2 separate regions of the Homo sapiens genome follow, and region 1 is linked to region 2. The links come from fine-mapping of genetic effects on gene expression. A gene starts in region 2. The other region holds a variant in brackets. All regions are shown on one strand. Distances are between the middles of the regions. Region 1 overlaps POC1A (POC1 centriolar protein A). Region 2 holds the start of PCBP4 (poly(rC) binding protein 4).

Evidence for each region. PIP is the estimated chance that this variant, and not a neighbour inherited with it, causes the effect.
Region 1: its variant is the best candidate, but not a certain one, in a credible set for the expression of PCBP4 in whole blood (TOPMed, PIP 0.60).

The regions. Positions count from the first base shown.
Region 1 is chr3:52,114,717-52,119,120 of GRCh38, forward strand. The region is part of intron 9 of POC1A (POC1 centriolar protein A); the gene reads right to left. Among named protein-coding and RNA genes, the nearest start is that of POC1A, 38 kb to the right of the region's middle. The variant G/A (reference allele first, on the strand shown) is at 2,552.
Region 2 is chr3:51,965,199-51,969,552 of GRCh38, forward strand. PCBP4 (poly(rC) binding protein 4) reads right to left here and starts at 2,256. Exons shown (of 14, transcript NM_001174100.2): 1 at 2,128-2,256. ABHD14B (abhydrolase domain containing 14B) reads right to left here. Exons shown (of 4, transcript NM_001146314.2): 4 at 3,317-4,354. The coding sequence ends at 4,228. RefSeq lists enhancers at 535-1,098, 1,099-1,660, 2,787-3,350, 3,351-3,912 and silencers at 1,946-2,215, 2,316-2,425, 2,436-2,715, 2,746-2,825.

The DNA of each region.
Region 1 (4,404 bases), 150 kb after region 2:
TTTCCCCCAGGAGCCAGAGATGGGCCACCTGGTAAGTCCTAGGAAACATGAAAAAGAAAGTCCCCACTGTTCCCAAGTCATCCCATAAAGCCTGGCCCCGGTAAAGCCCCACAATAGCCACACGAGGTGGAATGGTGCCCCTTAGAAGAGGGTCTGCTTTGCCATTTCCATCAAGCTCTCATTCACACCGATAAAAAGGACTGTGGGCAATGCCAGCTATTCAGCCAAAGGGTGTGAGCAAAGTGAGAGCCACAACACATTAACAGGCACATCTTGACCCCCAGAGATGCCCTGAGCCCAAGGGCACGGGCAGCTTGAGGCGTCGGGGGTTTGGGCTCCATGAAGCCATGCCTTTTCCAAGTTGGGTAACTTGCCTGGGCATCTTCTGACTTGCCTGCAGCAGGCAGGAAGCCAACAGTTCCCTTTAATAGTATTTTTTTTTTTTAAGAGATGGGGGTCTCACTACTTTACCCAGGCTGGTCTTGAACTCCTGGGCTCAAGCCAGCCTCTTGCCTCAGCCTCCCAAAGTGCTAAGATTACAGGCGTGAGTCACTGCATCCTACCAACCTTAATGGTCTTGAAAAAATTAGGTGCCAGGATTGGGGTCAAGTGGAGAAGGGAGAGGCTCTTCTCTAAGACATATAAATCTGGGGTTCACTCCTGCTCCAAACACCTACAACACCGCTCTTGCTAAGAATCCGTTGAACCCACACTTCTCCCCTCTACAGAAAGTGAATGCCAAACCATAAATCTGTGTTCTCATTAAGCGACCCAAGTCCTCCCAAATGAGAAGCAAATCTGCTGCAAGGTCTGAGGGCTAGTGTCCCCCAAAATTCCTGTGTTGAAATCCTAACCCCAAAGTAATAGTATTAGGAGGTGGGGCCTTTGGGAGGTGATTAGGTCATATGGGTGGAGCCATCAGGTTTGGATTAGTGCCCTTATGAAAGAGACCCCAGAGATCTAGCTAGCCCCTTCCACCACGCGAGGACACAGTGAGAAGGAGCCATCTATGAAGCAGAAAACAAACCCTCACCAGACACTAAACCCGTTGGTGCTTTGCTTGGACTTCCCAGCCTCCAGAACTGTGAGAAATAAAATTTCTATATTTATAATCTACCTAGTCTATGGTATTTTGTTATAGCATCCTGAGCAGACTAACACATAATCTATGAGGCAAGGGATGAGAAAATACTTAACCAGTATAATGTACATTATTTGGGTGATGATTACACTAAAAGCCCAGACTTCACCCCTACACAATATACCAGGTAACAAAACTGCACTTGTACTTCTGAAATGTATACAAATAATTTTAAAAAATCTATGAGGCAGATGAGGTGGAAATGGGTCTCCTCTCCCTGTTTCTCCAACTCTCTAATTCCTCAGGCAAGGCACCTGGAGTGAGAACCCAGATCTTAAAAATCCACAGGCACCCAGGACCCCCAGATCCAAAGCATAAGGGAAGATCTAGTGCCAAGAATCTCTGGGCCAGGAATCAGGGTCCCACAAATCCCTAAGTGAAGCCCACCCCTGTGGCAGTGCCCCAAAAATGGAAATGTGGGAGGTTAAGGACAAGCACAGGAGGTGGCTGGTGCTTTACTCTCAGTATCAGAGGAACTAGGAAGAAGAAATAGACCATCCTTCGGCACGGATGAGGCTCAGTTCAGATGTTCTCAACTGACCCAGCTCCCTCTTCCAGAGGACAGTTCAAGCACTGAGGCTCTGGGGATCCTGGGCATCTTGTCCTGAGGAATCCTGTGGCAGAAGGACAAGTCTGTTTCCACCCACTCACAGATCTGCTCTCTCATCTGGGAGCACAGGGGACTTGGGTCTGCCATCAGGAAACACAATTTTGATGCCTGCAAGGGTCTAGAAACCTCACTGGCCCTCACTACGATGACCTGCAGAGAGGGGTCAACGTGGAAAATTATAAGTGCTCCCATTATTGCCCACTGTCCCTCACCCCAGCAAGTTTTGAACACATAATCTCCTGGATTGGCTTTCAGTCAGGGAGGGGAAAAGAACCCTTTTTAAAGTAGCTAAAGCTTGGTGGGGCAGGCGTGGTAGTTCACACCTATAATCCCAATGCTTTGGGAGGCAGAGGCAGGAGAACTGCTTGAGCCCAGGAATTTGAGACCAGCCTAGACAAGACAGGGAGACCCTTTCTCTACAAAAAATTTAAAAAATTAGGCCAGGTGCGGTGGCTCACACCTGTAATCCTAGCCCTTTGGGAGGCCAACGCAGGTGGATCACCTGAGCTCTCGAGTTCGAGACCAGCCTGGCCAACATGGTGAAATCCCATCTCTACTAAAAATACAAAATTTAGCCAGGCGTGGAGGTGCACGCTTGTATTCCCAGCTACTCGGGAGGCTGAGGCACAAGAATCTCTTGAATCCAGGAGGCAGAGATTATAGTGAGCCAAGATTGTGCCACTGCACTCCAGCCTGGGTGACAGCACAAGACTCTGTCTCAAAAAAAAAAAAAAAATTAGCTGGGTGTGGGGGCACACGCCTATAGTCCCAGCTACTCAGGAGGCTGAGACAGGAGGATC[G/A]CTTCAGCCTGGGAGGTTGAAGCTGCAGTGAGCCACAATTGCGCCACTGTAGTTCAGCCTGGGTGACAGAGTGAGACCCTGACTCAAAAAAAATAGCTAAAGCTTGATGAGCACTTGTCATGTGCCAGGCAGATGCACCACGCATGAAATCCCACGAAGGAGGGCCCAGCCTCTCCCCAAACGACAGAAGAGAAAACCGTGCCTCACAGACGTCTGGCCACTTTCCTAGGACCACACCCCAGGCAGGGTAGAGAAAGGATTTAATCACAGGTTGGCTGGAAGCTAGAACCCAGGCTCTTAACCACAGATGAGCTTTCCTCCTTAAAATGAGATCTTGAGAGGTGAGTGGAGAAAAGCACTCAGCCCTAGAACTCAAGGTTAATGTGTGAACCGGACAGCAGCCAACCCTTAGAACTCAGAAAGTGGGTTTTTTTTTCCTCCCGTTTCACTGAATTACCTAGAACTCTGTGTTCTCCTCCCACCCCACCCAGCGCAACCTTTCTTCCCCATTGCATAATGGGCCCTCAGACATTTGGAAGGAGGGCAAAAATAAGTCAATCAAGCAAATGCATTTTTGCTATTTAAAAAGTGGTTAAAAAATGCTTCTGTGGTTGAGCAGAAGTCCGTCCTATAGTGGCAGGGGTTTGGGAGGTGTTAAATTCAAGATCAGCCAAGATACAGGGGTCTTTATGCCTCGGGGTCAGGCCCCAAAGAACAGACAGCAAGAGGGTGGACAAGAATAGAGGGGCCAGGGCTGTGGCAGGAACAGAGCTAAGCACTAGACCCTTGAAAACACGAGCACGGGCACCCAATGCAGACAATTCCCAGGGGCTCCCATCCCTTGCCCACCCTCAAGCCCCTCTGGGAGGTGCTCATTTGCCTGCAAGTGGCTCTTCCAACCTTCCCCCAGCCTTGTAGCATGTCACAAGGCTGAACATGGAGCTTCTGTCCACCCTCAGCCCAGAGCATGGCCTGGAATCCTTCATCTGCAACCTTCTAAGTAGAGAAGGTTCCCCAGCCACAAGCCCTGAAATCCCTCCTCATGCACAACTCAGCCAAGAATAGAGGGAAAATGGAACCCATTATTCTCATTCTGAATGGCTGGGAAATGGCTTTTGCTTTTCAACATGAAATGTGCCTAAAAATAAGCTGTGAATTTCAACCAGAGGTTGAAAATAGCTCTGCAGTGAACAGAGCTCTATTCAGAGTGGGCTCAAGGACAACCTTCATTCCAAGATCTGAGAGCTGAAGTACTGCAGTCAGAGAAAGGGTCATGGGCAGGGGGTTTTCCTGGGCAGAAGGACCATCATAGGCTCACAGGGCTGCCCTTGCCGTGGTCTGCTAGTGGGTAAGTAAAGTAAGGGGTCCATGCAGGGTCTGCCCCTCTGGCTTTCGACTGCTACGCTGGAATGGGGACATGGTGAGGAATTCAACACCTACACCTGCCCGATGGGCTTCCTAGATTCCCCAAATGCCCAGGAGTATTTCACAAGGCTTCAGGGCCTGAGGCCCAGGGTGCAGACAGAGCTGATGTAGGCAGAGGATCATTAGATTCATGAGTTCTTGGGGCATGGCTATGGTGCCCATGAGCTCTTTGAGAAGTCGAGCCACACTGGTCAGCCACCAAACCACTGACCAGATATTCTCCCAGAGCCAGGAAAACCTTTAGTCAGGAAAGGCAAAAACACTCTCCAATTTTTAAGTGAAGAAAACCAAGTAGTTGCTAAAGGCAAAAGGTTTTTTTTTTTTGGTTGTTTACCATCACCTCCAGAAGACTGCGACCAAATGAGATTCCTACAAAATGACTTCTGTTAGAAACCCAGGCTGAGACACCTGGGCCACTATTGCTGCTG
Region 2 (4,354 bases):
ATGGCTGCCCAGTCCCCAAAGAATAAAGCCTGAACTCCACAGACAGGCCATCAAGGACCTTCATGATCCAGCCCCTGTCTCTCTTGTCTCATCTCCACCCCATCCTTCACACATGCCAGGCTGCAGAACACACTTAGCACCTCCAGCCCTTCGGGCCTTTCTCCAGGCTTACCTCAGCTCAAAACGCCCATCCTCCCCACTCTCTGTCAAAATCCTTCTCAAACGCCACCTCCTCTGTGAAGCCCTCCGCAGGCTTCCAAGTCAGATGTGATCACTCAGGCCTCTGTGCCCCTCAAAGATGTTGCTGCAACTCAAAGAAGTCCCCGCTGGGCATTTCTGAGCCTGTCTTTCCACTATACACAGAGCTCCAGAAAGAGGAAATTTGAGACAAGACCAGGGTCAGTGTGCAGGGAGAAGAGTTAAGGTTCATGGGGCCTGGGGACATTTGGAACCAAAGATGGGGCTGAGGGTCCCGGAGGAGTAATGAGAGTAGAGTGAGAAGACCCAGACATGAGGGCCAGCCACATGGGCAGAGGTAGGACCTGCCTGGACAGGATTCCTGGTTCCTTTCTCAGCATCCCCAGCCCTACTCCTGCCGTTTTACCAGGACTAGGAGCTCCCTAGGTATGCTGCTGGGGTGGGGGATTTGGGCTGTGCTTTAGGTTTTCAGAGGGTGGGAGCAGAGTGGGTCTCCTCATGGAAGAGGGGGACTGGAAGAAGGGCTGGGGGGTGGGGTACGTTTCACAGAGTCGAGTTGGGCTCAGCCTGTCACAGCTGGAAAGGTCTTACCAATCACAAGAGGGGCTCGCGGCCCAGAGAGGAAGGGAAATGTTTGTAAGGCTACATGGGAGACAACTGGCAGAGCTGGAGAACCCAGGGGTCTACCTGTGCAGCTCAGAGCTCTTTCCTCAAGATGTCAGCGCCACTGGGCAATGGTGATGGAGGCTGGAGGGGCAGCAGTGATGGGAGTAGGGAGGGTGGACAGCCTGTCTGGGGACACAGGGTGGGGCAAGCCAGCCTCCTCGTGGCCTGGGCCTGCCAGGGTGTGTGGGCTGCCTGCTCCCAGCCCCCCACCCTGAGCATGCAAGAAGAACAATCCCCTTGTGTTTGGGCAGCCTGAGCCTGCATGCTGATGAAGGCTAGGGGGTGGGGGCTGGGATGGGGGTGCCCTGGAGGTTGAGGGGGCTCCAGGACCTGGGAAGACCAGGGGATTTTTTCAGATGGGGAAAGAATAGGGTCCCAGGTACTGGTCCTGAGGCAATGAGGGTGACCCAGGGAACAGGGAGGGCAGGAGCTCAGCTCCTAGGGAGTTCATGGATTGTAAGAGCCTTTGTGGCGGAAGGCAAGCCCCTGGGGACACATGTCCTGCTGGTTCAGCACGAACATGAGCATCCTGGGCTTGGTGGGGAGAAAGGAATGCAACTGGCCCTGGGTGCATCATCACCTTGGAGACCACTCCCCTGGGTGCTGGGGCCGGGTGGGGCACTGGGTGCCACAGGTCTCAAGATGGCGGGCCAGGGATAGGGGAGAGAGGAGGCGGGCACCTCCCTCTCCTGGCCAGGCAGGCATGAGGGCCAGGCTGAAGTGAGTAGCAGAGCCTCCCACCCCCACCCCCCAGGACCCCAGCCAAGAAGCTAGGTCAGAGCTGAAGGGCTGAAGAGCTATGGGGCAAGAGGGACCACTCTGAGCCCCCAGCTGTCATCTCCATACACCCCTGGCCTGGAGGTCTGTATCTGGCTCCCCCAACGACTGCGGAGGATGGGAAGGAGTGTGTGCCCAGCCAGGAGCTACAGGGGAGTGGCAAGTGAGGGCAGAGATGGAGCAGAACCAGAACCCAGGGCAGGAGTCAGAGAGAGGAGCAGGCGCAAAGGACAGAAACAGCGAGTGGGATGGGGGCCTCAAATCTGGGATCTAAGGTCCAGGAAGCCCCTCCCTGGTGCCAAGGGCGCCTCTGGCAGACCAGCGCCTCCCACCTGTGCAGGCCTCAGCGGTGTGGGACAGAGAACGTGTTCCTCGCAGTCTCACAAACCTGCGACCCCAACCGAGGGATCTGGGCGCGGGCTCCCTGCCCCCGGGCGAACCCCCAAACTTCGCGGCCCGCCGTGCCCCGCCCGGCCCGCGCCCTACCTCGCTGGGGCTGTCCTGCGGCGGCGGCGGCGGCGGCACGGCGGCTGGGCCGCTCAGTCCCACATTGTCCCCGGGAGAGGCGGCCGCTCACAACTGCGAGTGACATCAGCTGCGAACAATGAGGGGTTTGACAGGCGCGGAGCCCGGCCGGCCCGGAGCCCGGCTCCGCGCCCCCCCCCCACCCCCCGGCCCGCCCGGCCCGGCCCCTCCCCGCCCCCTCCCCGGATCCGATTACAGAGCGGCGGGCCCGCCCCAGCCGCCCCAGTGCCGCAGCCGCCCGCCCCGCCCCGCGCGCCGCGGTGCGCCCCGAGCGGCGGCCGCTTCCTGGAGGGCTCGGGCGACCCTTCCCCTGCCACTCCCAGAGCCCCACGGGTTGGGGGTAGGGGCGTCCGGCCTGAAGCCCGGTCCCCAGCCACGGCCTTCCCCGCACCGCCCGCGCTGCGCCCGGCTCCAAGCCCCTCCGCTCCCGCCAGGCCAGTCCTTCCGGCCCGGGCCGCCCGCCCGGCGCCTCTGCCGAGCCCCCTGCACCCCCATCCCCGCCTTGGCCCCGCCAGCCCCGGCTCCGCCTCGCTCCCGGCCCGCGTCCCTCCGAGCTCCGGCTGGGACCCTGCGCCCCGCCTAGCTCCCGGCTCTGCTCGCTGCGCGCCATCCTCCGCTCGGGCTTGCGCCCACCAAGACCCGCTCTCCTCGGCCACCCACAGCTGCATGGCCCGGCCCTCGTCCGCGCAGGACAGGCTGGAGGAGGGGCCTGAGAGCCGTGTGGCCCTGTGCACCCGATCCTGTGATAACCCCAAATCTACCCCCGGAATTCCTTTTGGGGATAGGGTCGCAAGGAACGGGCTCCGTTGAGTCTTTTACTGGGGAAGGGATACTAGTGGGGGTGATGAACTGTTCTCAAGTCCGCTGGGCACCCCCCGCCCTCGGGGAAGCAACTATTCCTTCCCCCCCACTCCTCCATAATCGGCTCAGCCTGGTCCCACTGACCTCCACCTCCCCCCACAGCTGAGTCTCTTGGCACCTGGGTATGTGTGGGTGGGGAGGGGAATCCAATCTCCCTTCCTCTCCATCTGGCCTGGTGGACAAAGGGCAGGGGGACCATCTGGTCCCGCCGGGGTGGGGGAGGGGCCCACAGTGTTGGTCCCAGGGGTGGGGGAGGGGCGGCGCTCTTTAGAAGCAGGAGCCGGTGGGGTCTAATTGCATCACTTTATTTCACCGACCTCCACTCTGGCTCCCACCCCACAAGCCTCAGAGCAGGAAACAAGCTTGGCTGAGATGCCTCAGGCCTGGTAACCTGAGGTGTAGAGCACCCAGAAGGAAGGGTAAAAGCAGGGGGCAAAGCGGTGGCCCTCCCTTTCTGGGGGTCACTTCTGGGCTGGGGCCAGCTGAAACCTGTGTCCAAGTAGCTTTCAGGGCTGGCCACACCCTAAGCCTTGCAAAAGGGCCTCCTGCAAGGGCTGGCCCATGGGGTCCCCACCTTCCCAGCCAGTGAGGTTAGCATGGTTAGGAGTCCACATGTGTGCAAGTGCTTGTGTGGAGGCTCATGTATGCATGTGTGTATATGCAAAGCTGCACATGACAATGTGCATGCCAGTCCAGAGTTAGATGTACCTATGCAGTTGCCCTCAAGCGAAGGGTCATATTTGGAAACAAGGATGGCTCTAAACATGTAAGCGTGCATGTGGGCATGTATGTATCTGGGGCCTAAGGAGGTGGGGAAGTGGGTGTTGGGGTAAGGGCTGGCCTTCAGGGCATTTGCAGAAGGAGGAGTGGGTGGGAGGGAAAGGCTGGGCAGAGCAGGGGAAGGAGTGAAAGCCAGGCAGGAAAGTGGAAGAACAGGAGAAGCTCATGTAATGGATTACCCTCCACAGGATTATGTTCCTTGATTCCTGAGAGTTTTTTCTCTTGATTTTACCCCCTCAGTCTATCACTGCAAGAGAAAGAGGTAGAAAAGACAAACAGACCACAAAAGACAAGAACCCAGACATATAGACAGACGCACCTGTTGCATGTGCATGAGCCAGAGCCTGGGAGAGAAGAGAGAGCGTGCAAGAGAGAGCTCAGAGCAGGCAGGCAGCCCACCCCCTGCAGCAGTGCTGGGCTTCACTGGAGCCCCTGCAGGAAGTCCAGCAGCCCTGTATGCCACTCCTCTGGTTTGTCCAGGTAACAGGGGTGCCCCGCCCCCTTCATGATCAGCACCCGGTGGTTGGGCAGCTGCTTCAGGTGCTCA